Regions from separate parts of the Homo sapiens genome. Here region 2 is linked to region 1. Evidence: fine-mapped expression QTL. A gene starts in region 1. The other region holds a variant in brackets. All regions are shown on one strand. Distances are from middle to middle.

Evidence for each region.
Region 2: its variant is fine-mapped to the expression of DNM1L in T cells (TOPMed, PIP above 0.99).

What each region holds. Positions count from the first base shown.
Region 1 is chr12:32,670,177-32,687,350 of GRCh38, forward strand. DNM1L (dynamin 1 like) reads left to right here and starts at 9,125. Exons shown (of 20, transcript NM_012062.5): 1 at 9,125-9,289. The coding sequence starts at 9,188. RefSeq lists an enhancer at 4,018-5,217 and a silencer at 9,273-9,682.
Region 2 is chr12:32,756,919-32,767,339 of GRCh38, forward strand. No RefSeq gene overlaps it. Among named protein-coding and RNA genes, the nearest start is that of YARS2, 6.2 kb to the left of the region's middle. The variant A/G (reference allele first, on the strand shown) is at 4,116.

The sequences.
Region 1 (17,174 bases):
AGAACAAAAGACAAGGAAGTTAGTAGTCTAAATTTTTGAAGAGAAACTCAGAGAAATTCATTGTGTCTTACAGTAGGAACCAATCCTTGGGAACCTTGGTCTTGGACTTCTAGCTTCCAGAACTGTGAGACAATACATATCTGCTGTTCTAAACCAACCAGTCAGTGGTACTTTGTTACAGCAGCCCCAGGAAACAAATATATTCCACCACCAAGTTTATGCAGAAAGAGATTCATTCATTCATTTGACAGTCTTGCTCGGTTGCCCAGGCTGCAGTGCAGTGGTGCAATCTCGGCTCACTACAACCTCTGCCTCCTGGGTTCAAGCAATTGTCCCACCTCAGCCTCTCGAGTAGCTGGAGCTACAGCCGTGCAGCTCCATGCCCAGCTAATTTTTGTATTTTTAGTAGGGATGGGGTTTTGCCATGTTGCCAGGCTAGTCTCGAACTCCTGGCCTCAGTGATCTGCCTGTTTGGCCTCCCAAAGTGCTGGGATTACAGGCGTGAGCCACCACACCCGGCCCGAAAGATATTTAATATGGGAAATTAGATGCTTATAAATCTGTTAGAGTGCCTGGGAAAAACAGGTGTTAGCTAGACATCCAGGAATTACTTCCCGAACAATGTCACAAAATCAGTACACCAGAAGTTACTGTATATTTATCATAAGCGACAGCTGGCTCTCGGGATCTTTTTATCTCGACTGTTATCTGAGAATCAGGAAAATATCATCAGAACCATTAAGTCCAGAACCACGTCATGCTTCCCATGATCTTGCGTCCCAGAGTAGGTGTCCCTTTTGTTTGTCATAGTGTACTAGGGAGCCTTTAGATCTGCAAAGGTAGCAGCTAACCAAGGGCTAAAAGTGAAATTTCTCTTCACCATCAAATATGAGCAAATTGAGTTTGTGTGAGGGAGACAAAAAACAGAAAAACAGAGAAGGGAGATATGAAAAGCTTCTAAGAATGTCAAACAACATTTGAGAACCTGGAGTAGAGTTGTAAAGAGGCTAATGAGAAGGCTTGAGAAATGGGGCAAGTGAAGTAGTTTAAATGCAGGGATGTCTAACATATAATTTTCAGTTGTCACTGCTGTAATTTAAAATCACTATTGCTGGGCGTGGTGGCTCATGCCTGTAATCCCAGCACTTTCAGAGGCCAAGATGGGCGGATCACCTGAGGTCAGGAGTTTGAGGCCAGCCTGGCCAACATGGCAAAACCCTGTCTCTACTGAAAATACAGCCGGGCGCAGTGGCTCACACCTGTAATCCCAGCACTTTGGATGTCTAGCTAACACCTCAGGGCGGATCATCTGAGGTCAGGAGTTCGAGACCAGCCTGACCAACATGGAGAAACCCCGTTTCTACTAAAAAAATACAAAATTAGCCGGGCGTGGTGGTGCATACCTGTAATCCCAACTACTCGGGAGGCTGAGGCAGGAGAATCACTTGAACCCGGGAGGCAGAGGTTGCGGTGAGCTGAGATCATGCCATTGCACTCCAGCCTGGGCAACAAGAGCGAAACTCTGTCTTTCAAAAAAATAAATAAACAAAATACAAAAATTAGCTGGCGAGTGGCCCACGCCTATTGTAATCCCAGCTACTTGGGAGGCTGAGGTGGGAGAATCCCTTGAACCCAGGAGGCAGAGGTTGCAGTGAGCTGAGATTGTGCCACTGCACTCCAGCCTGGGCTACAGAGCGAGACTTGATCTCAAAAATAAATATATAAATATAAATAAAATAACTCTATTATCTCAAATAGTTTCTAAAATATGCCACAAATTTTGATGGTAGGAGGATAAAAAGAAGGGCTACGTTCTATTGGGGTGTGGGTGTGGAGCAAAGGGAAGAAATCAGGACCATATCTTAACTCCCAAGTTATTTTGTCGTTAACTGCTCTTAATTGTGTTGTCACACTGCCCTCTCATGGTCCCGTCAGTATCTCACCAGATTCAATTTCTGGCTTCTGAACCATCTGGCCAATTCCACCATCTGCAAACAATTTCCTGCACCTGCTAACAAAGTATGTGTTAAGCTTGAGGCCTGGGGAGTAGCAAATTGATTAAAGCTGTTTACTTTATCATCTTTGCAAAACACGGGCAGTTTCCAAAATATGACAAAGAGGCTTCCCCAACAGAGCTGTATATTTTATATTAACATTAGATCCCCACTAACCGCTATGATTTGAAGGTGCAGATACCGGCATCTTGGCTGTGATTGATGATCAAAATGTTGGCATAAAATGATATTGGACACATGCGATAAAAACAGTCTGACCTTTTCCAAGATCGATTAATTTCCAGTTATTAATTTAATCCAAAATAAACTTCCTCTAATTCGGGATTTTAAGTTAGAACAAAGCCAGGCTACTCCCTAGCTAAGTAACTTGGCATCTATTCTAATGAGGAGTCCTATGCCAAGCCAGACTCATATGTGTTGGTGAGATTTGATTGCCAGTCCTGGTTGCAATTATATCAATTCAGAGCTGCTTAAATCCTTGTTATTCCAGATTTTCCAAATAAAAAAGAAAAGAAAACCCCATATCCAGTAGACTAATATTATGTAACACGCTTCATACGAGGTAGTGGGGGAACCCAGCTAAATAAGATAATCACTTCTGCCCTTCGTGAGCTCACTATTGGTGAAGGGGGAGGGCATGTTAGTGCCATATCCACGGTTCCTCCCTACTCTCCAGCAAAATATACTGCCTGGCTAAGATCCGTATGCCTAACAAGTACTTCATCAATATGTGTTGAATTAATGAAGAAAGGAATAAATACACGAGGCAGAATGTGTAGCGGTTGAGAGTTTGCTGCCGGGCATGGTGGCTCACACCTGTAATCCCAGCACTTTGGGAGTCCGAGGCGGGTGGATCACCTGAGGTCAGGAGTTTAAGACCAGCCTGACCAATATGGTGAAACCCAGTCTCTACTAAAAATACAAAAATTAGCCTGGCGAGGCGGTGTGCGCTTGTAGTTCCAGCTACTGGGGAGGCTGAGACAGGAGAATTGCTTGAACCTGGGAGGCAGAGGTTGCAGTGAGTTGAGATCGCACCACTGTGGCGACAGAGTAAGACTGTTTCAAAAAAAAGAAAAAAAAGGGGGTTTGCCAAAAAGCCCCTTTTCATCCCATCTCTGCCACATACTAGCTGTGTAAATTTACCACTTCACTTCAATCCCTGGAGCCTCCGTTTCTACATCTCTAAACCTACTTCACGAGGCTCTGATAAAATGCTTAGTATAGTGCCTCACATACAATAAGCACTTAAATAATAGTTCAATAATATTGTGTGAAAAGGGCAACAAGGAAAAATGGAGAAATTCATATGGTTAACTATGGGGATTAGAATTCTGATGTTATGTGCTGTACAGCACATGTACATTTAAAAATATGGGAAAGTTGGCCAGGCGCAGTGGCTCATGCCTGTAATCCCAGCACTTTGGGAGGCTGAGGCGGGCAGATCACGAGGTCAGGAGATCAAGACCATCCTGGCTAACATGGTGAAACCCCATCGCTACTAAAAATACAAAAAATTAGCCGGGTGTGGCGGTGGGCGCCTGTAGTCCCAGTTATTCGGGAGGCTGAGGTAGGAGAATGGCGTGAACCCAGGAGGCGGAGCTTGCAGTGAGCTGAGATTGCACCACTGCACTCCAGCCTGGGTGATAGAGCAAGACTCTGTCTCAAAAAAAAAAAAAAATATATATATATATGTATATATATGGGTAAGTTACTGAATTTGGGGAAGTTCTTCAAGGTGAATAAAGAAGTTTATTCTTGCAAACCAATTTATTCCATGAGATAGGAAACATGATCTTTGGAGACATTGACTCACATGCTTACAGTTCTATAACCAGAGAGAGAAAATATTTTTGTTCAAATTCAGGTTAGGAAATTCTCAGAGAAGGATTCTAAATGGTCCTGCAGGTCCATCCCTAGACCAATCACCTTAACCAGGTGCAGTAGGCCCCTCCAATAAGTCCATGTCCTAATCCCTGGAGCCTGTGAACTTTATGTCTCAGGAGAGACTCTGTAGATGTGATTAAGGGTACAGGCCTTGAGACAGGGATATTATCCTGGGTTGTCCAGGTTGGCCAATCTAATGATGGGCCCTTAAACACAGAGAAGCTTTTCTGGGGGTCAGAGGCCTGATGACAGCAGAAGAGTTAAAGAGATGCGACATTGCTGGCTTTGAAGAGGTTGGAAGGAGGTAACCAGCAAGGAATGCAGGGGGCCCCTAACAAAGGCAAGGAGGTGAATTCCCTGCTAGAGGCTTTAGGAGGGTTTGCAGCCCTGGTGACACCTTGATTTTAGTCCAGTGAGACCTGTGTGAGACTACTGAACTATAGAACTGTAAAACAATACTTTTTTTTTTTTTTTGACATGGAGTCTCACTGTGTTGCCCAGGCTGGAGTGCAGTGGCGTGATCTTGGCTCACTGCAAGCTCTGCCTCCCAGGTTCACGCCATTCTCCTGCCTCGGCCTCCCGGGTAGCTGGGACTACAGGTACCCGCCACCACGCCCGGTTAATTTTTTGTATTTTTACTAGAGACAGGGCTTCACCATGTTAGCCAGGATGGTCTCAATCTCCTGAACTCGTGATCCGCCCGCCTCGGCCTCCCAAAGTGCTGGGATTACAGAAGTGAGCCATTGCGCCTGGCCACATTTTTGTTGTTTTAAGCCACTAAAATTGTGGTAATTTGTTAAGGCAGCAATAGGGAACTAATATACTAGAGAAGCAAGGCAGAAACCAGGTTCCTAGGTTTCAGTTCCTCCCCAGTTCTCTCTGCCTCATCTGCTGTGAGACAGCTTGCTGAATGAGATCCCCTACACCCTCCCCCACAGCACACTCACCTCATTCCACAGGAGTAAACTGCGTGAGAGAATGAAATAGACGATGTAGTGATAAGATGTAGAGCTCTGATTCTGCCTGAGCTCCTAGTTCCAGTCATTTTTTTTTTTGAGGTGGAGTGTCACTGTGTCACCCAGGCTGGAATGCGGTGACGTGATTTTGGCTCACTGAAACTTCCGCCTCCCGGGTTCAAGCAATTCTCCTGCCTCAGCCTCCCGAGTGGCTGGGATTACAGGCTCTCACCACCACCCCCAGCTAATTTTTGTGTTTTTAGTAGAGACGAGGTTTCACCATGTTGGCCAGGCTGGTCTTGAACTCCTGACCCCAACTGATCCACCCATCTCGGCCTCCCAAAGTGCTTGGATTACAGGCTAGAGCCACTGCGCCCAGACATTCAGTCATTTTTGAGGCAAGTTAGCTCAGAATTAAATTTCTGTCCTTACAATTAGCTATCCTGCCTAAATCATAAAGCTATGGTGAGAGAGGGATGGTTGCAGGAGAAGAGGTGTTTTTTGTTGTTGTTGTTTTTTTTTTTTGAGATAGAGTCTCACTCTGTTGCCCAGGCTGTAGTGCAGTGGCGCGATCTTGGCTTGCTGCAACCTCTGCCTCCCAGGTTCAAACAATTCTCCTGCCTCAGCCTCCCCAGTAGCTAGGACTACAGGCGCGTGCCAGCACGCCTGGCTAATTTTTTGTATTTTTAGTAGAGACGGGGTTTCACCGTGTTAGCCAGGATGGTCTCCATCTCCTGACCTCGTGATCCACCCACTTCGGCCTCCCAAAGTGCTGGGATTACAGGTGTGAGGCACCGCACCTGGCCGAGAAGAGGTTTTTTTAAAGGCCTTTTGATATCCGATAATGGTTTAATGTGATTCCCACAGGAAGCCACTGAAGAACACATTATTCTTAGATGCACAAAGACTCTTTTTTGTGGGAAATCCATTTAGCCACTTATTAGTTAAATTGATTTCCCACAAACAAGAGTGTTCTGAACTTAAAACATGAAAGCCGAAATTGGTTTTTTTTCTTCTTTTTTTTTTTTTTTAGTTGGAGTTTTGCTCTTGCCGCCCAGGCTGGAGTGCAGTGGCGCGATCTCGGCTCACTGCAACCTCTGCCTCCCGGGTTCAAGCGATTCTCCTGCCTCAGCCTCCCGAGTAGCTGGGATTACAGGCACGCGCCACACCAGGCTAATTTTTTTTTTGTATTCTTAGTAGAGATGGGGTTTCACCATGTTTGTCAGGCTGGTCTTGAACTCCTGACCTCAGGTGACCCGCCCACCTCGGCCTTCCAAAGTGCTGGGATTACAGGCGTGAGCCACCGGGCCTGGCTCTTTTTTTTTTTTTTTTTTTTTGAGACGGAGTTTTGCTCCTGTTGCCAAGGCTGGAATGCAATGGTGCAATCTCGGCTCACCGCAACCTCTGCCTCCCGGGTTCAAGCAATTCTCCTGCCTCAGCCTCCCGAGTAGCTGGGATTACAGGCGTGCACCATCACGCCCAGCTAATTTTTGTATTTTTAGTAGAGATGGGGTTTCTCCATGTTGGTCAGGCTGGTCTTGAACTCCCGACATCAGGTGATATGCCCACCTTGGCCTCCTGAAGTACTGGGATTACAGGCATGAGCCACCGTGCCCGGCCTTCTGTTTTCTTTAGAAGAAAACAAAAGCTCCATCAACAGAGGGGTGAGAAGCAAAGTGGGTAATATCTGACTATTATGTAATATTATCTTTGGTAGAAAGTCAAGAGACTTGGAATAAAACTGTTTTTTGGAGTTCTGAAATTTTTGTCTTATTTTATCTCTGAAAAATTTTTTTTTTGAAAATAATCAAAGAGGAGATGTTCACAAAACCTGTCAAGATGCCAAAACACCACTAATGGATCTTTAGGTCTTGGCTTACTTCATCCATTTGTTCACAGATATTTATTAAGCACCTGCCATTTGTCCTGCTGAACAAATCAAGCATGTTCCCCGCAGCCATTGTGTACAGCTAAGCAGGTGAATGGCACCCACTGGAGTTGCGTAGTGCACAACTTCCACTACTGCTGGTGGTTCTTGTCCTCATGGAGATTAAATTTAGTAACTTCTAGGAAGTCTTTCTCGAATCTCTATCCTCTTGCTCAGACTGGAAAAAGTGCTCTTATTATGTTTTCTTTTCTCTTTTCTCTTTTTTTTTTTTTGACACAGGGCCTCACTCTGTCACTTAGGCTGGAGTGCGGTGGCACGATCACAGTTCACTGCAGTCCCCACCTCCCAAGCTTAGGTGATCCTCCTACTGCAGCCTCCCAAGTAGTTGGGGCCACAGGTATGCACCACCACGACAGGCAAGCTAATTTTTTTGTATTTTTTGTAGAGACTGGGTTTTGCCGTGTTGCCCAGGCTGGCCTTGAACTCCTGACCTCAAGTGATCTGCCCGTCTCCTGCCTCAGCCTCCTGAGTAGCTGGGATTACAGGAATGCACCACCACGCCCGGTTAATTTTTGTATTTTTAGTAGAGACGGGGTTTCTCCATGTTGGTCAGGCTGGTCTTGAACTCCTGACCTCAAGTGATCCGCCTGCCTTGGCCTCCCAAAGTGCTGGAATTACAGGCGTGAGCCACGGTGCCTGGCCTCTCCTCACCTGCTTTAATTCTTTACTCAAATGTCACCTTTTTACTTTGAGGTTTACTTTTACCTTTGGAGGTTTGGAGTAGAGGAGGGATACTATCTGTCTAAAAAGAAAAACAACATTTAGAAATATAACAGTATGGGCCGGGCATGGTGGCTCAGGCCTGTAATCCCAGGACTGTGGGAGGCCAAGATGGGCGGATCACTTGAGGTCAGGAGTTCGAGACCAGCCTGGCTAACATGGTGAAACCCCGCCCCCCACCCGTCTCTACTAAAAATACAAAAATTTTCCCAGGGTGGTGGCGGGTGCCTGTAATAACAGCTACTTGGGGGGCTGAGGCAGGAGAATCACTTCAGCCTGGGAGGAGGAGGCTGCAGTGAGCCGAGATTGCGCCACTGCATTCCAGCCTGGGCGACAGAGTCAGACTCTGTCTCAAAAAAAAAAAAGAACGGTATGAGCAAAGAGTGAGTAAGGCAGTTATCAGATGTCTACTTTGCCAGGAATCAGGCTACAGCAAATAAAGGTTTATACATAATATTGATAATAAATGCCCAGCTCTTCCCCTGTAAAACTCCAATACTCTAAGATTTTTTTCATGAACACCGCCCCCCGCTGCTCCGACCCCTGCTTTTTTATTTATTTATTTATTTATTTGGTAGAGATGAGGTCTCACTATGTTGACCAGGCTGGTCTCGAACTCCCAGCTCAAGCGATCCTCCTGCTTCTGCTTCCTAAAGTGCTGGGATTACACCGCGCTCGGTCCTGAACACACATTTTGTTTGTTTGTTTGTTTGTTTACAAAACCCCTGGAGAACCCGCGTATTCTAACCTGGGCTGGTTTTTGTATTTTTGCAAAATAACACCCCACACATTCTCGTATCAGCGTGCAGATTTTTTTGCACCCAGTTTGGTTGTTTGCGGCCATAAGCTTTTCTTTAAGCCTTTCCAACCCGTCCTTCTAGAGAAAGTGTCTTCATAAGGAAGTCACACTGCTCACGCCTGTAATCCCAACACTTTGGGAGGCCGAGGCGGGTGGATCACTAGGTCCGGAGATCGAGACCATCCTGGAAAACACAGTGAAACCCCGTCTCTACTAAAAATACAAAAAATTAGCCGGGCGTAGTGGTGGGTGCCTGTAGTCCCAGCTACTCCGAAGGCTGAGGCAGGAGAATGGCGTGAACCCGGGAGGCGGAATTTGCAGTGGGCCGAGATCGCGCCACTGCACTCCAGCCTGGGCGACAGAGTGAGACTCCGTCTCAAAAAAAAAAAAAAAATAAATAAATAAAAAATAAATAAAAGGAAGTGACACTGGATAATTAAGAGACACACCATTGCGCCTTTAACACATATTCACACCCAGCACTGTCACATCCATCGTGCCTTGAGGACAGGCATAAATTTACGGCCTTCCTCCTGCGCTCCCGGCCTGCTCCTAGCCTTTGACTAGAGCCTGCGCAGCATCCCAGTCCCAGGCTAGGGCCCACCGGTGCCGCGCAGCCTCCTGGAAGCTGTGGGGAGTAGCGTTCCTCCGCTCCAGAACTACAACTCCCAGCAGGCCTTGCTCCTCTCCACCTCCCTCGCAGCGCATGGCCTGCCGGGAGGGGGCAGGTAGCCGGCGGGCCCGGTCCAATGGGTGCCGGCTTCCGAGGAGAGGGCGGAGGAGAGGAGGAAGGAGGCGAACTGTGGGCCCCGGCCCCATTCATTGCCGTGGCCGGCGGGCACTGGGGCCCCGTGTTTTCAGAGTCATGGAGGCGCTAATTCCTGTCATAAACAAGCTCCAGGACGTCTTCAACACGGTGGGCGCCGACATCATCCAGCTGCCTCAAATCGTCGTAGTGGGAACGCAGGTGAGAGCAGCAGGCGGCGTTCGCTCGGGCCAGACCCCGGCCGCAGGCCTGGTCGGTGCTGCGGCAGTGCCCACTCCCGCGCCAGCGCCCACTCCCGCGCCAGCCTTTGGGGCCTGTGGGAGGAGGGCCTTGCTGGGGGCCCCAGGGCTCTCCGGGCTCTGCCGCACCCGCCCTCCCGGGGCAGCGTTGCATCAAGGCGGAGAATCCGGGGCCCGGCCAGGGGCGGAGCCGGCGCGGCGGGCCTGGCTAGCCCGGCGGGTCCCGGGGACAGGAGAGGGAAGGATGGGGCCGGCGGGCGGAACTGGAGTCCGCTGGGACCGGGCGCGGCCTCGTCCGCGTGCCGCTGCCTCCAAGGGCACCTGGGGGACGCGCGGGGCACTCGGGTCTCGCTGGGCTCGGTGGGCTGGCTGTTCCCATCACTGTTGGCTTTCGTGAGACGGGTGTTTTATTTCCCTCCTTGCCTTGCCCAGGGACTGCGGAGTTAGTTTTGGAATCGCTCTGTTGAGGCTGAGAGACGCTACGGTGCGTGAGCGCCAGTGTTTTCCTGCAGTATAATTCCACCAGGTTTCGAGAACGCCGAAGCAGCATTTTAAAAAAAGAAAAACAAAACGTGTATCTAGAGTTCTGCGGGTGTTGGGAAGGAATATCCGATTTTTCTGCGTAGGCTGTGCTTTTTGTCTTCCACAGTTTTGTGATCGTGACCTAAATTGGGCATCAGTTTCTCTGGTCTTCTCATAGCTAACTCATTTTTTTTTGAATGCAGAAATGTTGGCAAAATAACTGTTATTTCTAGAGTGACAGAGGAGAAGTATAATTTTCCTTTTCTCTGCTACTTCGATTAGAGTTCAGAGAAACGGATTTTAGAAATTAGTATATTGATATTAAGTGCTTTCATTTCTTAATAGTATCTTTTCTATTGAGAAGGAGCGGTTTCCCCATCATTTTCCAGGAGGTACATAGTATAGGGTATAAGTGCTATCAGAAGGAACTTACTGTTCAAAGTATTAGTGGCTATCCAAACACTGGAAACTATAGACACCCTGTACTCGTTTGTTTGTTTGTTTGTTTTTTTGGCTTTTAAATAGTTGAAGCAATAGAAATTGTTTTAGAAACACATTTCCTTGGTCTGCGATAGGATTGGGAAAGATTCTGCTCAATCTTGCCTACGTATTCTAGTATTTGTAACAATATTTGTAATGTTTGGAGACTCAGAAGCATCAAACAAATTACGAGGATTATTTTTTATTGAACATAATTTTGTTCAGTCTGGGACATATAGTAAGTGCTCTGTAAATATTTTGAGTAAATATTGCTCACTCTAACCACAATGTTTTAAAACACTGGGACTTTTATCATCAAAACTAACCTGTTTTTGTAAAAAGTTAGAGATAATATAAATTAAGTCTTTGATAGTAAGTGATTCAGAAGTGTCTTCTAGCTGCACACTAGAAACTTTCCACATACTTTTAAAAGAGAGTCTCAGTGCTTTTTAAGCATGAGGAAGTAAAAGAATTAGGGATATAGTGTGTCAGCATAAATAGTTTAAAATCAATAAGTTGTTTTTTTCTTTTTACACAAAATAGAGTTTATTTTGGTCAGTAAACCTGTTGGCAAAATACAGAGTGGCAGGAGAGAAAAGTAAAGATCCCATCCTTCTGAAAGCCATTAACATGTGCAAAAACCATCCTAGTACTGACAGTTATATGCTATATTTGCATGTTGGTGTTTGAAATTTCTCAAGAGGTCAGTTTTTCTACTTGATTTAATGAGGGTTATTTCCATCTAAGTTCTTATTAGCTGATAATCAGTCTTTTACTCAAGTACAGAAGAAATACAGAATAGAAATTATCCGAGGTAGGCAGATCACTTGATTCCAGGAGTTCAAGACCAGCCTGGGCAACGTGGGGAAACTCCATCTTTACGAAAAATACGAAAATTAGCTGGGCATGGTGGTGCGAACCTGTAGTCCCAGCTACTCTGCAGGCTGAGGTGGGAGGATCACCTGAGCCTGGGAGGTTGAGGCTGTGGTGCGTGCAGGAGTGCATGTCACTGCACCCCAGCAGAAAGAGAGAGAATAGAAACTATTTTCTCCCCACACCGCCCCCCCCGCCCCTATTTTCTCCCCACACCGCCCCCCCGCCCCCGCCTTTTTTGTAGTGTGTTGGGGAAACAAGAATCTCTTCTTGGTTTGAATACTAGTATACCATTACTTTGTGATGTCTGCCATTTTTACTCTTTGGTGTTGTGTAACATATATGTATACCTCACATTTATATTTAATGAAGTAATTGTAGTGAGTGAGTTCCAGACATATAAGTGTTCTGTACTTAGTTCTGCCTAGTATACCTATCGGCAGTAATTGTGTCTTCAGAATACAGGTATAAATTAGCCAGGTGCTATGGTGTGTAGTGTGTGCCGGTAGTCCCAGCTACTTGGGAAGATTGCCTGAGTCCAGGAGTTTGAGGCTGCAGTGAGCTATGATTCTGCGATGGCACTCCAGCCTGGGCGACAGAGTGAGACCCTGATTCTTCCAAAAAAAAATTAAAAAACAACTTCAAGTGTAGTCTCTATCCTACATATTATCCATACCTTAAATGGCTTCAGTTTCTATCTTGTTGAACTTTTTGGAACAGTGATTCTCAGACTTGAGTGTGTATTAAGAATCACTTTGGTTTTTTTTTTTTGAGACCGAGTTTCGCTCTTGTTGCCCAGGCTAGAGTGCAGTGCCATGATCTTGGTTCACTGCAACCTCTGCCTCCCGGCTTCAAGTGATTCTCCTGCCTCAGCCTCCCACATAGCTGGGATTACAGGCATGCACCACCACGCCCGGCTAATTTTGTATTTTTAGTAGAGACAGAGTTTCTCCATGTTGGTCAGGCTGGTATCCAACTCCCGACCTCAGGTGATCCACCCGTCTCGGCCTCCCAAAGTGCTGGGATTACAGGTGTGAACCACCCCGCCTGGCCTAAGAATCACTTTGAAACTAAGTTTCCTGGATCCTGTCTCCAGAGATTTTGATTTTATAAGCCTGGGTTGGGTGAGGGACCATAGGTGATTCTGATACAGATGGTTCCTAGATCCTAATTTGAAAAACATATTAGTGAATCATTGGATTTTAAAATGCATGATACTGGAAAAAGCAGGAAAATTAGGGGAGGTTGAATCTATGGCATACTACCATCCAGTACCATGCTGACTTTGGTGGCATTCTTGCTTTAATATATCACTTCCCAGGCAACCATTGCTGACCCCTAAATGTTTTAAACTTTGGTTTTATGAAATGCCCAAGTAACACTCATTTGGGGGCTAGGGACTTGGAGGAGTGGAGGTGAGGGAATCCTGTTTACAGCTATCAGTCATTCACATGTTTTATGTGTTAGCTAAATAAATTGCTTTTATTTTTTCTAGTAGAGACCATCTGTGTGAAATGAACAGACACAGTGGGGAGAGAGAGAAGGCTGATGATACTTTTAGACCATGGTGTAACTTTGCAAGTAGAGGAGATAAGACTTAAAACAACTTTTGTGACTCAACTTGGGAAATTTAATCCTATTTCTTAAATTAAGAATTGGAAAGGGGAGCCCTCCAGGTATGTAATCTAAACTACCACCCAATATAGGTATCCGAATACAGATGACATTAACCTGAGACTCTGGCTTAGTGTTCCTAGTAATGTACTTTACACTTTTCCTTTTATTTCAGTGATTTCAGCATTCTATCTTCAGTAATTCAGACAAATGTAAAAGGAAAAACAATTTGGATTTTTTATTTTTATTTTTTTAGGGTCTGGCTCTTTCACCCAGGCTGGAGTGCAGTGGCATAATCCATAGCTCACTGTAACCTCAAATTCCTGGGCTCAAGCAGTCCTCTTGCCTCAGCCTCCTGAGTAGCTGGGACTACAGGCACGCATCTGGCTAATTTTTTTTTTTAAATTTAAAATCGCTGCCTTACTATGTTGCCAAGGCTGGTCTCAAACTCCTGGGCTCAAATGATCCTCTTGCCTTGGCCTCCCAAAGTGCTAGGAGTATAGGTGTGAGCCACTGCACCTAGCCTAAAAATAATTTGGATTTTATTTTATTTTATTATTTATTTTTTTAGAGATGGAGTCTTGCTCTGTTGTCCAGGCTGGAGTGCAGTGGTGCGATCTCAACTCACTGCAACCTCCGCTTCCCGAGTTCAAGTGATTCTCCTGCCTCAGCCTCCTGAGTAGCTGGGATTACAGGTGCATGCCACCACGCCCAGCTAATTTTTGTATTTTTAGTAGAGATGGGGTTTCACTGTGTTGGTCAGGCTGGTCTCGAACTCCTGACCTCATGATCCACTTGCCTTGGCCTCCCAAAGTGCTGGAATTACAGACATGAGCCACTGTGCTCGGCCTAATTTTTGTATTTTTAGTAGAGACAGCATTTTACAACGTTGGCCAGACTGGTCTCAAACTCCTGACCTCAAATGATCTGCCTGCCTCAGCCTCCTGCTGGGATAACAGGTATGAGCCACCATGCCCGGCCAGTAATTTGGATTTTAATTTCTAATTTGCAAATCAACTTTTAAAAATTTAACATTAAAAATACTGAAATATTCATGTAACACAAAATTCACCCTTATAAAGTATACACAACTCAGCAGCGTTTAGTATGTTCACAAAGTTGTACCACCATAGTGTAATTCCAAAATATTTTCATTACCTGAAAAAGAAAACTCCTGCCCATAAGCAGTCACCCCCGTTTTGTCCTCCCCCAGCTTCTGACAGGTTTTGATTTTATAAGCCCCACGTGGGTGAGGGTCCATCGGTGACTCTGATACAGATGGTTCCTAGATCCTAATTTGAAAAATATATTAGTGAATCATTGGATTTTAAAATGCATGATACTGGAAAAAGCAGGTATCACTGGCAACCACTAATCTACTTTTTGTCTGTATGGATTTGCCTATTTGGGATATTTCACATTAGTGGAATCCTATAATATGTGATTTGATCTTTTGTGCCAGGCATCTGTTGCTCAACATAATTCTTTTTTTTTTTCTTTTTTGAGACAGAGTTTTGCTCTGTTGCTCAGGCTGGAGTGCAATGGCACAATCTCAGCTCACTGCAACCCTTCACCTTCCGGGTTCAGGTGATTCTTCTGCCTCAGCCCGGATTACAGGCGCGTGCTACCGCACCCAGCTAATTTTTTTGTATTTTTAGTAGAGACGAGGTTTTGCCATGTTGGCCAGGCTGGTCTCGAACTCCTGACCTCAAGTGATCTGCCTGCCTCAGCTTCCCAAAGTGCTGGGATTATAGGCATGAGCCACTCAACATAATGTTTTTTAGGTTCATCCATTATGTAGCATGGCAGAATAATAAATATTACATTGTATAGATACAGCACAGTTTATTCATCAATTGATGAATTTTTGGGTTGTTTCTATTTTTTGGCTATTATGAATAAATAATGCTCTGCGAACATTCGTTTACAAGTTTTTGTGTGAATGTGTATTTTTTTTTTTTTTTTGAGATGGAGTCTCGCTCTGTCACACAGGCTGGAATGCAGTGGCGTGATCTTGGCTCACCGCAAGCTCCGCCTCCCGGGTTTACGCCGTTCTCCTGCCTCAGCCTCCCGAGTAGCTGGGACTGCAGGTGCCCGCTACCACGCCCAGCTAATTTTTTGTTTTTAGTAGAGACAGGGTTTCACCGTGTTAGCCAGGATGGTCTCGATCTCCTCACCTCGTGATCCACCCGCCTCGGCCTCCCAAAGTGCTGGGATTACAGGCGTGAGCCACCGCGCCCGGTCAGTGAATGTGTATTTTTGATTCTCTTGGGTATATATCTAAGCGTAGACTTGCTGATTCATATGATAATTCTTACGTTTAACTTTCTGAAAAACTACCAAAGTGTTTTCCATAGTGGCTGCACCTTTTTTTTTTTTTTTTTTTGAGACAGGGTCTCACTTTCTCGCCCAGACTGGAGTGCTGTGGCGCTATCTTGGCTTACCGCAACCTCTGCCTCCCAGGCTCAAGGCGTTCTCCTGCTTCAGCATCCTGAGTAGCTGGGATTACAGGTGCCCGCCACTACTGCCCGGCTACTTTTTGTATTTTTAGTAGAGGCGAGGGTTTCCTTATATTGGTCAGGCTGGTCTCGAACTCCTGACCTCAAATGATCCACCCACCTCGGCCTCCCAAAGTGCTGGGATTACAGGCGTGAGCTGCTGCGCCCAGCCGTGGCTGCACCATTTCACATCCCCTCCAGGGTTCAGGTTTCTGCACATCCTTATCAACACTTGTTGTTATCTTTTTTTTTTAAGCGCTAAATCATTCTGGAATTCTTTATTTGAAAAACAGCACTTTTTGACACCTATGCCATTTCCTTCTCTTATGGACAACTTTTTTCATAGTTTGATGTCCCTCTCTCTTTTTTTTCTCCATGAGCACTGCTGTCTACATTTTAGCATTTATTGACTATAATTTAATTCCTGCTTATGCATTGTTTTCTTGTGTTCTTAGATAAATTTATGTTTTTCTCTTTTTTTGTATAGATTATGAGCTGCTGCTTTTTTTTAACTTAACAAAATTGAGGTGAAATTTGCAGAACATAAAATTAGCCTTTTTTTTTTTTTTTTTTTTTTGAGATGGAGTTTTGCTCTTGTTGCCCAGGCTGGAGTGCAATGGCGCGATCTCGGCTCACAGCAACCTCCACCTCCCGGGTTCAAGTGATTCTCCTGCCTCAGCCTCTCAAGTAGCTGGGATTACAAGCATGTGCCATGCCTGGCTAATTTTGTATTTTTAGTAGAGACAGGGTTTCTCCATGTTGGTCAGGCTAGTCTCAAACTCATGACCTCAGGTGATCCGTCCACCTCGACCTCCCAAAGTGCTGGGATTACAGGTGTGAGCCACTGTGCCCAGCCAAAATTAGCCCTTTTATAAAATGTATAATTCAGTGTCATTTAGTGCATTCATAATGACATCTCTGTCTAGGTCCAAAACAATTTCATCACGAAAGAAAACTACTATTGAGCTGTCACTCCCTCTTCTTTCTTTTCCATTTAATGGCTGAGTAATATTCTGTTATATGTATAAACCACATTGGTTTATTCAATCACCTATTGATGAGCAATTGGGTTGTTTCTGCCTTTTAGCTGTTGTGAATAGTGCTGCTGTGAATATTGGTGTACAAGTATTTGAGTACCTGTTATCAGTTATTTTGGTATATACCTAGGAGTAAAATTACTGGGTTCTATGGTAATTTTGTTTAACTTTTTGAGCAACCACTTTTCCACAGCAGCTACACCATTTTAAAATTCCCACCAGCAATGTTTGAAGGGTGCAGTTTTTCTGTATCTTTGTCAACATTTGTTATTATCTGTTTTTGATTATAGTCATCCTAATGGGTGTGAAGTTTTGTTTTGCATTTCCCTAATGACTAATGGTGTTGAACATCTTTTCATGTGTTTGTTGGGGTTGTCTTATTGTTGAGGTTGTAAGAGTTCTTTTTTTTCTTTTTTTTTTTTTTTTTTTGAGATGGAGTCTCGCTCTGTTGCCCAGGTGGCCAGGCTGGTCTTGAACTCCTGACCTCAGGTGATCCGCCTGCCTTGGCCTCCCAAAGTGCTGGCATTATAGGCATGAGCCACCACACCCGGCCTTGTCTTTTTGCTTCCTTGTTAGTGTCCTTCAATACACAAAAGGTTTTACTTTTGGTTAAGGCTAATTTATCTTTTTTTTTCCTTTTATTGCTTTATGGTGTCATATCTAAGGCATTGACAAATCCAAAGCCGTGAAGATTTTTTTTTATTTTTTAATGTTTTTTCCCCTAATTATTTTATAGTTTTGGCTTGTATATTTAGGCTTTTGATCCATTTTGAGTACATCTTGGTATGGTATGAGGTAGGGGTTCATTTCATTTTTTTTGCAC
Region 2 (10,421 bases), 83 kb after region 1:
TCTTACTGACTGCTCATTAAATGTGGGATGTTTCTGGGGAGGAAGCAAAACGCTGGGTTAAGGCTTTTGGAGAGTGAGATGTGCAGGAAGGGACTCAGCTGTGAGCAATAAGCAACCAACACTCCCAGCAGCTGGGGGATTGAGTGCCTTGGTCCTGTGACTGGGATCTGGGCCATGTTCCAAATCATTCCCTACAGGACTTTTCCATTTTTTAACGTTATAAAGTTATCTAACAAAATGAAAACTTATTTTAATAATTAGTTTCTTTGCATGTATAATTATCAGTGAATTAGTTTCTCATTGCCAAATAGTAACTTCAATAGGATTTTGAGATACTCATTCAATAGGCTATTAAACATACTCCCAACTGCTTAAGAAAATAGTGTGTTCAAAATATCTTAAAATTTGCAATCATAACCTGTTGATCTTCAGTGTTTTTTTTTTTTTTAAGTGTCACTCTGTTGTCCACACTGGAGTGCCGTGGCAGGATCATGGTTCACTGCAGCCTTGAACTCCTAGGCTCCAGCGATCTTCCTGCCTCAGCCTCCCAAGTAGCTGGAGCTACAGGTGTGGACTACCATGCCTGGCTAATTTTTATTTTTTGTTTTTGTAGAGACGGGGGTCTCACTGTATTGCCCAGGGTGGTCCTAAACTCCTGGCCTCAAGCAAGCTTCCCACCTCTGCCTCCCAAAGTGTTGGGATTACAGGCATGAGCTACTTCGCAAGGCCAATCTGCAGTCATATGGTCCACCACTTTGATCAGGGACAGATTTCAGTAGGTATGGCAGGAAATTCTCCTGAGCACACGTAAGGAAACTCACATCTGGGCCACTTGTCACTTGAAAGCCAAAAACCCAAGAGAAGAGCTGTAGTGAAAGTAAAGTTAGCTTTATTCAAGAGACCAGCAACCCTGGGGGATGCAGTGAGCTAGCGTTCAAAGACCACCTCTGGTTTTTAAGGGCAATTAAGAGAAAGGATGATAAAAAGATTTTTGTGAAACGTGTGCAGTCTCAGGTCGGCAGTAAATCATTGCTTTCTTGGTCAATATTTTGTGGCTTTCTGCAGGTACCATCAGCCTATTCTTATTAGGTCGGTCAGCCCATTCACAGAGAGGCTGATCTAGGTATTTTCTTTTATCTCTGTTCAAGATCCTGTTTTTCTGAGGCTGATTTTAGTGAATGATCTACAAAATCAAGCAAAGTAATAATTGTATTCAAGTAAGCAAGCTTTCTTCTAACATGGAATCAGTACTGTCACACACACAGCAAATGGTGCTTTCTATTTAGTACCTTAATACATAGGGCACACATGTGTTTCTGGTGACACACAACTCTCTGGCTTTTACAGGTGTGTTAGTAATTTGAAAATCCTACTTGTTACAACAGTATGCCAGGGTTACTTGATGTCAGGGTTACTTGATGACCTGTGCTTAATGGAGAAGAATTTTGTGGATAATGAGAAATAGAAAATTTCTACCTGGGATTACAATTTATTATAAAGTCTTTTAAAAATAGATTTGAGCTCTGCTTTGTCTCTTAAGTTTAGTTGCATCTCATGAAGAGGCAGCAAAGTCTGATATAGAAGGTGGTGTCGGGCCGGGTGCGGTGGCTCACGCCTGTAATCCCAGCACTTTGGGAGGCTGAGGTGAGCGGATCACTTGAGGTTGGGAGTTTGAGACCAGCCTGACCAACATGGAGAAACCCCATCTCTAATAAAAATACAAAATTAGCCGGGCATGGTGGCGCATGCCTGTAATCCCAGCTACTTGGGAGGCTGAGGCAGGAGCATTGCTTGCACCCACGAGGTGGAGGTTGCAGTGAGCCGAGATCATGCCATTGCACTCCAGCCTGGGCAACGAAAGCCAAACTCCGTCTCAAAAAAAAAAAAAAAAAAAGAAGGTGGTGTCACAGGAGGTGCTAGATGAGACTTGACAGTAGCTTAATGACAGTAACAAGCAACAAGTTTGGAAAATACAGTGAGATCAATTACTCTCTTTTTATAATTTGTGTTGGTATTATAGGGGAAATTGGGCTTTGTCCCAAAGACAGGAGCAATAAAGAAGATGGGACTTTCAAACCTTTGGAATTATATCCGTGGCTAAAATTTTATGGGATTGCACCCATGGTTTGCATTTGGGTTACAAAAAAGTGACCAAGTTAATTCTTGCTGTTTTTATTGGCTTAAAAAGTGAGTGAACAAGGGTTAAAAAGTATTTTTAAAAATATGATTTATCTCAACTGTAATAACTTGAGGTTAACTGGCCTTGAATTAGAGGCACATGTGTTTTACAGTTACCTTTTCCTGCAACAAAATGCCACATAAATGTTCTCTTTGAAGGGATCCCTGTTTTAAATGGCTTGGTTTTCAAAATGTAAACAAATATAAATATAATAGAATTCAAAAGACACAGAGTAAACAGTAATGGTATTTTAACTGATCTCTACTTAACTTTGAAAATTTCTCTATCTCTAGCATTGTATTAAATATATATTCAGATTACAGCAGAGATCTGATTAGGGCTGAAATATGAGCTGCTCGAACATCACAGCAAAATGACAGCAGAAAGAAGTCTGAGGAATTCTGATCATTATAATCACTATAAAATATAATTCTTATTTGTGTTTTCTGTTTTTTTTTCCTTGGAGAAGATTATTGGTGACATCAGATGCAAAAGGGAGTGGATAGGAACAAGAAATAGAAATTGTAAACCTATAATTGTAAACCTACGTAACCATGCCCGGTTACGGCCGGGCATGGTGGCTCACGCTTGTAATCCCAGCACTTTGGGAGGCTGAGGCGGGCAGATCACCTGAGGTCAGGAGTTTGAGACCAGCCTGACAAACATGGTGAAACTCCCGTCTCAACCAAAAATACAAAAATTAGCCAGACGTGGTGGCGGGCGTCTGTAATCCCAGCTACTCAGGAGGCTGAGGCAGGAGAATCACTTAAACCTGGGAGGCGGAGGTTGCAGTGAGCCGACATAGCACCACTGCACTCCAGCCTGGGCAACAGAGTGAGACAACATCTCAAAAAAAAAAAAAAGAAAGAAAAGAAAAAGAAATTGTAGGTTATTGCAGAAAGGCCATGGCTTTTCTTCCAGTTGAAGTATTTCCATGGCTTTTCTTCCAGTTGAAGTATTTCCATGACATTCCTATCTCCTATTACTTGGGAAGAATCATTTCTAAAGATTGATTTCATGTCTTTGTTGTCTTTGTATAATAATTTATAACTCAATCTGCCTCATAATTACATCTTCTCACACATGACTTTCATGTTGCTGTTTTTCTTGAAACCTACATCTAAAGTCCTAAAGATCCTCCCACTCTGCCCATCCTTACCTGCAAGGCAGTTGCTCCCCTTTCATTCCAAACTAATTTCTTTCAGGAAGCTCCTCTGCATTAGGTAGGGCGAAGGAAGGATGCTTTTACTGTCCAGGTTCATCATGCCCCTAAAATGTATTAAAATGTAAAATCAATAATGCTTACCCTTCCCACACAAAAAAATGGAAAGACCATTAAGTTCTATTAAAATTTATAGAAATTTATGTGAGCTAAGTGTCTTGAAACCTAGTCTGTGTCCCTTGATTGAAGTGGCTTTAATGCTTTTTGAGCTGATGGTCATATTAACATCCAAAAATTTTTTATAAGAGATTAGCTTATTTTAAGATGCTGATTGTAGGAGGATAATTAGACAAAGAAACATGTTACTAGATATGCATTTCCTTTCTATATTAGAGTTTAGAGAAGGATACCCCAAGTTTCTTTCTTTCTTTCTTTTAGGCTGCTGTTGTAGCCAGTGGAATAACCTGGAGGTCTCAGCATTGCCTTAACTTTATGCACCTGGTCCCATACCATATGGCTGGATAATGTTTTGAGATATTTATGGGTTTAAAAATCTTTCATTTTCCAGGCCGGGTGCGGTGGCTCACGCCTGTAATCCCAGCACTTTGGGAGGCCGAGGTGGGCAGATCACGAGGTCAGGAGTTCGAGACCAGCCTGGCCAACATAGTGAAAACCCGTCTCTTCCAAAAATACAAAAATTAGCCAGGTGTGGTGGCACACGCCTGTAGTCCCATCTACTCAGGAGGCTGAGGCGGGAGAGTCGCTTGAACCCGG[A/G]AGGCAGAGGTTGCAGTGAGCTGAGACCACGCCATTGCACTCCAGCCTGGGTGACAGAGTGAGACTCCGTCTCAAAAAAACAAAGAAATAAAAAATCTTTCATTTTCCTCTCTTCATTTTAACTGTCCATTTGTAGCAAGTTCTGTGTGTCAGTGCCTTGGGGAAAGTACAAGTCGGGGAGGAATACAGAGTCATCCTGGAACTCTTTGTAACTTTTGTTTCCAAAAGTCAAAAGCCTAAGATAGGATGAAGTTTAAGGAAATAAGCTTAGAGAAGAGAAAGAGGTAGGATTCTCCAGCTTAAAGAGAGTGCCCCTGCCCCAAACCTGGGCAAGGGAGCCCTGGCTATGGCCCTGGTTTGCCAGAGGAGCTGTGCATTGCTCCCTGGCCTCAAAGGGACGACCTCCTGCTACACTTCCAGCCTGGGGCTCCTGGCTTTGCCTAAGGTTCCTCTGCTTCATTTGAGGCAGGAGAGCCCCTGAGTGCCAGCTGGAGGTCTCAGAGAACCACTGAAGGCTTGGCCAACAAGGATGGCTAGAATGATCAGAACCAATTGGAAATTAGAGATATTATTTCCTGGGGCACGTTGATCAAATTTTGGTAAAACCCTAGAAGCGGGAAGGAGGCTAATAATGATGGAGAAACAATTTCCTACCATTCTAGTGGGTTAAGGACATAGATGTTTGCTTATTCATTTAACAGATATTTATTAGAATTATTTGATCAGTCAGGCACTGTTCTAATGGCTTAGGATATATTCATGGATGAAAGAAAGATTCCTGTCCTCATGGAGATAATATTATTCTATGAAGTTATTTTTCTCTGAGCAGTTTTATTCTTCACTTCCTCTTTCTTCATTTCCTCTTTCTGATTGGGCTCCTTTTCCACGCCCAATTTTTGGAGCAGAGAGAGAGTGACTCCTAGGTAGCTGTTGAAGAACATGCAGATTAGGAGGGGGCTGTGGGAGAGAAACATTTGTTGAGAATATGACCAAGGGAAAGACATCCCTTGTAGGAGGGTGGTGATTGAGGTGTAGAGTAGAATTCAAACAGCTTTTCCCCTTTCAATATGTAATTGTGTCTCCCTTCACTCCTGCTGCAGTGAATTTTTCTCCTCGCAGAACCCTTTCCCCAACATCCACCCCTTCTGCTCTGAGCTTGGTGATAGCCGCCGCAGTCCCCTACCAGCATGTTCTTTCCCAGGCCATGTTGTCGGGACTGTAATTCAGCCATGACTGGCAAGCAACGAATCCGCCTGGCTGTTTGCTAATGTGATGAGAAAAGCAGGCTTCCCTCTTAGAAAGAGGATCTTGGAGACACTATTGTGATTGCATCTGAAAAGCTTAGATCAAATGGATAATGTCTTCAGTGAAGATCATTTTGGAATTTTCCTATTTATCAAGTTACCTTAGTAATTTTCTGGTCTCTCTGACAGAGTAGAAGTGAATCAATCAACTCATCATTGTCCCTCCATCAAGGCCAAGTGAATTTATATCTCCATTGGAGAAGAAACAAAACAATAAGCAATCATTCTATGTTTTGTAGAGCAATTCTATTTTGATTAAAACTATTTTTGTCTTTTTTTCTCAGTGTCTTCAATACGGACTTTATGTTTTTCTGTTATAAGCACTGACTGGTTAGTTACCAAAATGAGAAATAAGTCTGGAAACATCTCACTCATTAATGTTCTGTAACATCATAAGGGGAACAAATACCTTGTATTTACATAATGTTTGCAGAAAAGTCAAATATTACTTCCTTCATCCTCACAACCATAACAAAATGTGCTTCTGAGTCGTGGTCCAAAGACCATGGGACTAGGAGTCACAGACATGAGTAGCTATCTCAGCTTAACCTTGACTACCTGTTCCTCCTTAGATAAGTCATTTAACACACTAGCCTTGGTGTCCTCATTTTAGAAGTAAATGGGCTGGGCTTGGCGCGGTGGCTCATGCCTGTAATCCCAGCATTTTGGGAGGCCGAGGCAGGCAAATCACGACGTGGTCAGGAGATCGAGACCATCCTGGCTAACACGGTGAAACCCTGTCTCTACTAACAATACAAAAAATTAGCCAGGCATGGTGGCCGGCACCTGTAGTCCCAGCTACTTGGGAGGCTGAGGCAGGAGAATCACTTGAACCTGGGAGGCAGAGATTGCAGCAAGCTGAGATCTCGCCACTGCACTCCAGCCTGAGCGACAGAGCAAGACTCCATTTCAGAAAAAAAAGAAAAGAAAAGAAAAAAAAAAGTAAATGGGCTGGATTAGATGAATTCTAAAATCTCATTCACCTCTACAATTCTGAAATGCCTGTTTGCTATCACAGTAGTCAAAAGTCCCATTTATTGTTTCTCAGCTTTAACTTCATTATTTAAGCCACCACACCAGGGAGGAGGTTAAAAATGTATTCATCGGCCAGGCACAGTGGCCCATGCCTGCAATCCCAGCACTTTGGGAGGCCAAGATGGCGGATCACTTGAGGTCAGGAGTTTGAGACCAGCCTGGCCAACATGGTGAAACCCTATCTCTACTAAAATACAAAAAATAATTAGCCGGGCATGGTGATGGGCGCCCATAATCTCAGCTACTTGAGAGGCTGAGGCAGGAGAATCCCTTGAACCTGGGAGGTGGACGTTGCAGTGAGCAGAGATCATGCCTCTGCACTCCAGCCTGGGTGACAAAGTGAGACTCCCTCTCAAAGAAAAAAACAAACAAACAAAAAAAAGCCTGGGCGCAGTGGCTCACGCCTGTAATCCCAGCACTTTGGGAGGCTGAGGCAGGCAGATCACTTGAGGTTGGGAGTTCGAGACCGCCTGACCAACATGGTGAAACCCCATCTCTACCAAAAAATACAAAAAATTAGCTGGGCATGGTGGCACACACCTGTAGTCCCAGCTACTTGGGAGGCTGAGGCAGGAGAATTGCTTGAACCCAGGAGGCGGAGGTTGCAGTGAGCCGACATCATGCCACTGCACTCCAGCCTGGTGACGGAACAAGACTCTATTACAAAATAAATAAATAAATACATCTATTTTCTCCTCTACTGAGGTTTGCTTAAGCAGTAGAAGCCAGTTTAAGTCATGCTTACATGGCTGTTATTAGAGGGAAACTGTATTATGACAAGTTTTGAAAAATTAAGATTGAAGATTTAGAAAGTGATAGTTGACCAATGAAACATATATCATATTTGCAGAAAGATCCAGTGAAAATCCAAGCAGCTTTGCTCAGATCCAAACAGTTTCAATTGCCATTGATCTCATTCAAAGCTGCCCGTGGGTGGGAGACCGACCTGGAAGGGTGTCACTAACAGAGATAGCAAATGAAAACAACTCCTCTGTATTCTCATAGCTATTTTTTTCTAAAACCAAAGGAAATCTTAGACACCCATGCCCCTTCCCATTGTATGTCTCACGTAACTCTTCTCCAAGCACAGTTTAAGGAGGTTCAGGGGAGTGGCAATCAGGGACACAATGGTGTCAGATGGTGACCAAATATCTAGCACATAGCACCAACTGAGACACCTTTCCAATGGACTTGTAACATGATGTCACACTATATATTTGAGAAAGCTTCCAGTAAATAGGTGAATGTAGCCCTGGTTTATATGCCTCTTGTCTCAGCCTAATTATTTATATGACCCCTTTTATTCTCGAAAATGTCCTGTTTTGGGAATAAATTTTACAGACATTCTATCTAACATTTCTACTCTGGAAAACAAGTTAATTTTAAAAATGGGTATTTTTGAAACAGGGTCTTGCAATGTCCAGCCTGGAGGGCTGTGGCATGATCACGGCTCACTGCAGCCTCGACCTCCCAGGCTCAAGTGCTCCTCCCACTTCGGCCTGCTGAGTAGCTGAGAGCACAGGCATGTGCCACCATGCCTGGCTAATTTTTTTTTAAATTTATTTTTTGTAGAGACAGGGTCTCACTACATTACCCAGGCTGTTCTCAAACTCCTGACCTTAAATAATCTTCCCTCCTTGGCCTCCCAAAGTGCTGGGATTACAGGCACTGTGAGTGAGCCACTGTGCCTGGCCTAAAAAAAATTTTGAGTTAAAGATTTTTAATGTTTTGTGTAAGATTCTTTTTTACGAATTTTACTTTATTTTAGATTCAAGGAGTACATGTGCATGTTTGTTACATGGGCATATTGTGTAATCGTGGGGATTGGGCTTCTAGTGTGCCTGTTACCCAAATAGTGAGCACTGTACCTGATAGGTAATTTTTCAACCATTGCCCGCTCCCATCCTTCCCGCTTTTGGCATCCCCAGTGTCCATTATTTCCCTCTTTATGTCCATGTGTACTCCTTATTTAGCTCCCATTTATAAGTGGAAACATGCAGTAATTTTATGTTTCTGAGTTAGTTTACTTAGGATAATGTTCCCCAGCTCCATCCATGTTGCTGCAAAGGACATGATTTCATTATTTCTTATGGCTGCATATTATTCCATGGTGCATATACACCACATTTTAAAAATCTAGTCAAGCATTGATGGACACTTAGGTTGGTTCCATGACTTGGCTATTGTGAATAATGCTGAGTCTTTCTTATGGAATGATTTCTTTTCCTTTGGGTAGATACTCAGTAAGGGGATTGCTAGGTCAAATGGTAGTTCTTTTTTTAGTTCTTTGAGAAATCTCCATGCTGTTTTCTATAGAGATTGAACTAATTTACATTCCCTCTAAAAGTGTATAAGCATTCCCTTTTCTTTTCTTTTTTCTTTTTTTTTTTTAAGATGGAGGTTCACTCTTGTTGCCCAGGCTGGAGTGCAATGGCACAATCTCAGCTCACTGCAACCTCTGCCTTCTGGGTTCAAGTGGTTCTCCTGCCTCAGCCTCCCAAGTAGCTGGGATTACAGGCATGTGCCACCACGCCCGGCTAATTTTGTATTTTTAGTAGAGACAGGGTTTCACTATGCTGGTCAGGCTGGTCTCGAACTCCTGACCTCAAGTGATCCACTTGCCTTAACCTCCCAAAGTGTTGGGATTACAGGTATGAGCCATCATGCCCAGCCAAGCGTTCCCTTTTCTTCACATGCACGCTAACATCTGTTGTTTTTTGACTTTTAATAACAGCCATTTTGACTAGTGTAAGATGATATCTCACTGTGGTTTTAATTTGGCTGCCTGCATTTGTCTGATGATTAGTGATGTTGAACATTTTTTTCATGTGTTTGTTGGCTGCCTGTATTTCTTCTTTTGAGAAATGTCTGTGTCCTTTGCCCAGTTTTTAATGTTTATTTTTTTTTTTTAGTTTAGTTTTTTTTTCTTGTTGAATTGTTCCTTGTAGATAGATTCTGGATATTAGTCAGCAGCATAATTTGTAAATATTTTCTCCCATTCTACACATTGTCTATTTACTCTGTTGATTATTTCTTTTGCTGTGTGAAGCCTTTTAGTTTAATGAAGTTCCATTTGTCTATTTTTGTTTTTGTTGCATTTGCTGTTGGGGTTTTCACCATAAATTTTTTGCCTAGGCCAATGTCCAGAAGATTTTTTCCTAGGTAAATGAATAAGCAAATCACACATACACACAAATCCCAATGGCCAATATAATACAGAAAATATTCAGGCTCATAAGTATTCAAAGAATTGTGGTTTAAAGGCACATTTTCCTCATGTAAAATGTTTTGGTGTTTGAAGTGACACCAAAGTTTGGTAACGACAACTAATAATAGCAACAAACACTAGTGAATTCTATGTGTGCTAAGCATTGCATTAAATGCTTTACATGCATTATTTTACTGAATTCTTACAAAAATTCAGAAAGCAATTATTTTTATCTAGCTCACAGATGAAGAGACTTACTAATAGTTGAATCCAGATATTTCTGACAGCAAAGGACATCATCTTGGCCACTCTGCACAAGATCTTTATGTAGTTTTTCATTCAAGAGGTATTTATTATGTTTTGGACCTATATTAGGCTCTGCGAATTTCACTGATAAGAAGACATATGACTCTTGTCCTTGTAGAGCTTATAGCTTAGCAAGATCTTACAGATGGTACTGGTATTGCTGCTCAGGTTTGCTGTGAGATGAGCACATCAGGCTGTCTTAGTCTGATACTATTCATGCTAGTTAGATTGGATTGACATTTATTCCTAACTCCTTCTATGTGCTTTTCTGTGCTGCAGGTCCTAGAAAGCTGAAAGCTCCATTTCCTAGATCCCCTTGCAGGTAGGGTTCTAAACATGAATGGGTTCCTTGAATTAGATATACTCTTGAGAAATTGGTGAGGCGGAGGTCATCCTTCTGACATTGTTTCTCCTGGGAAGCAAGTCGTGGGAATGTATCAGGAAGTGAAAGAG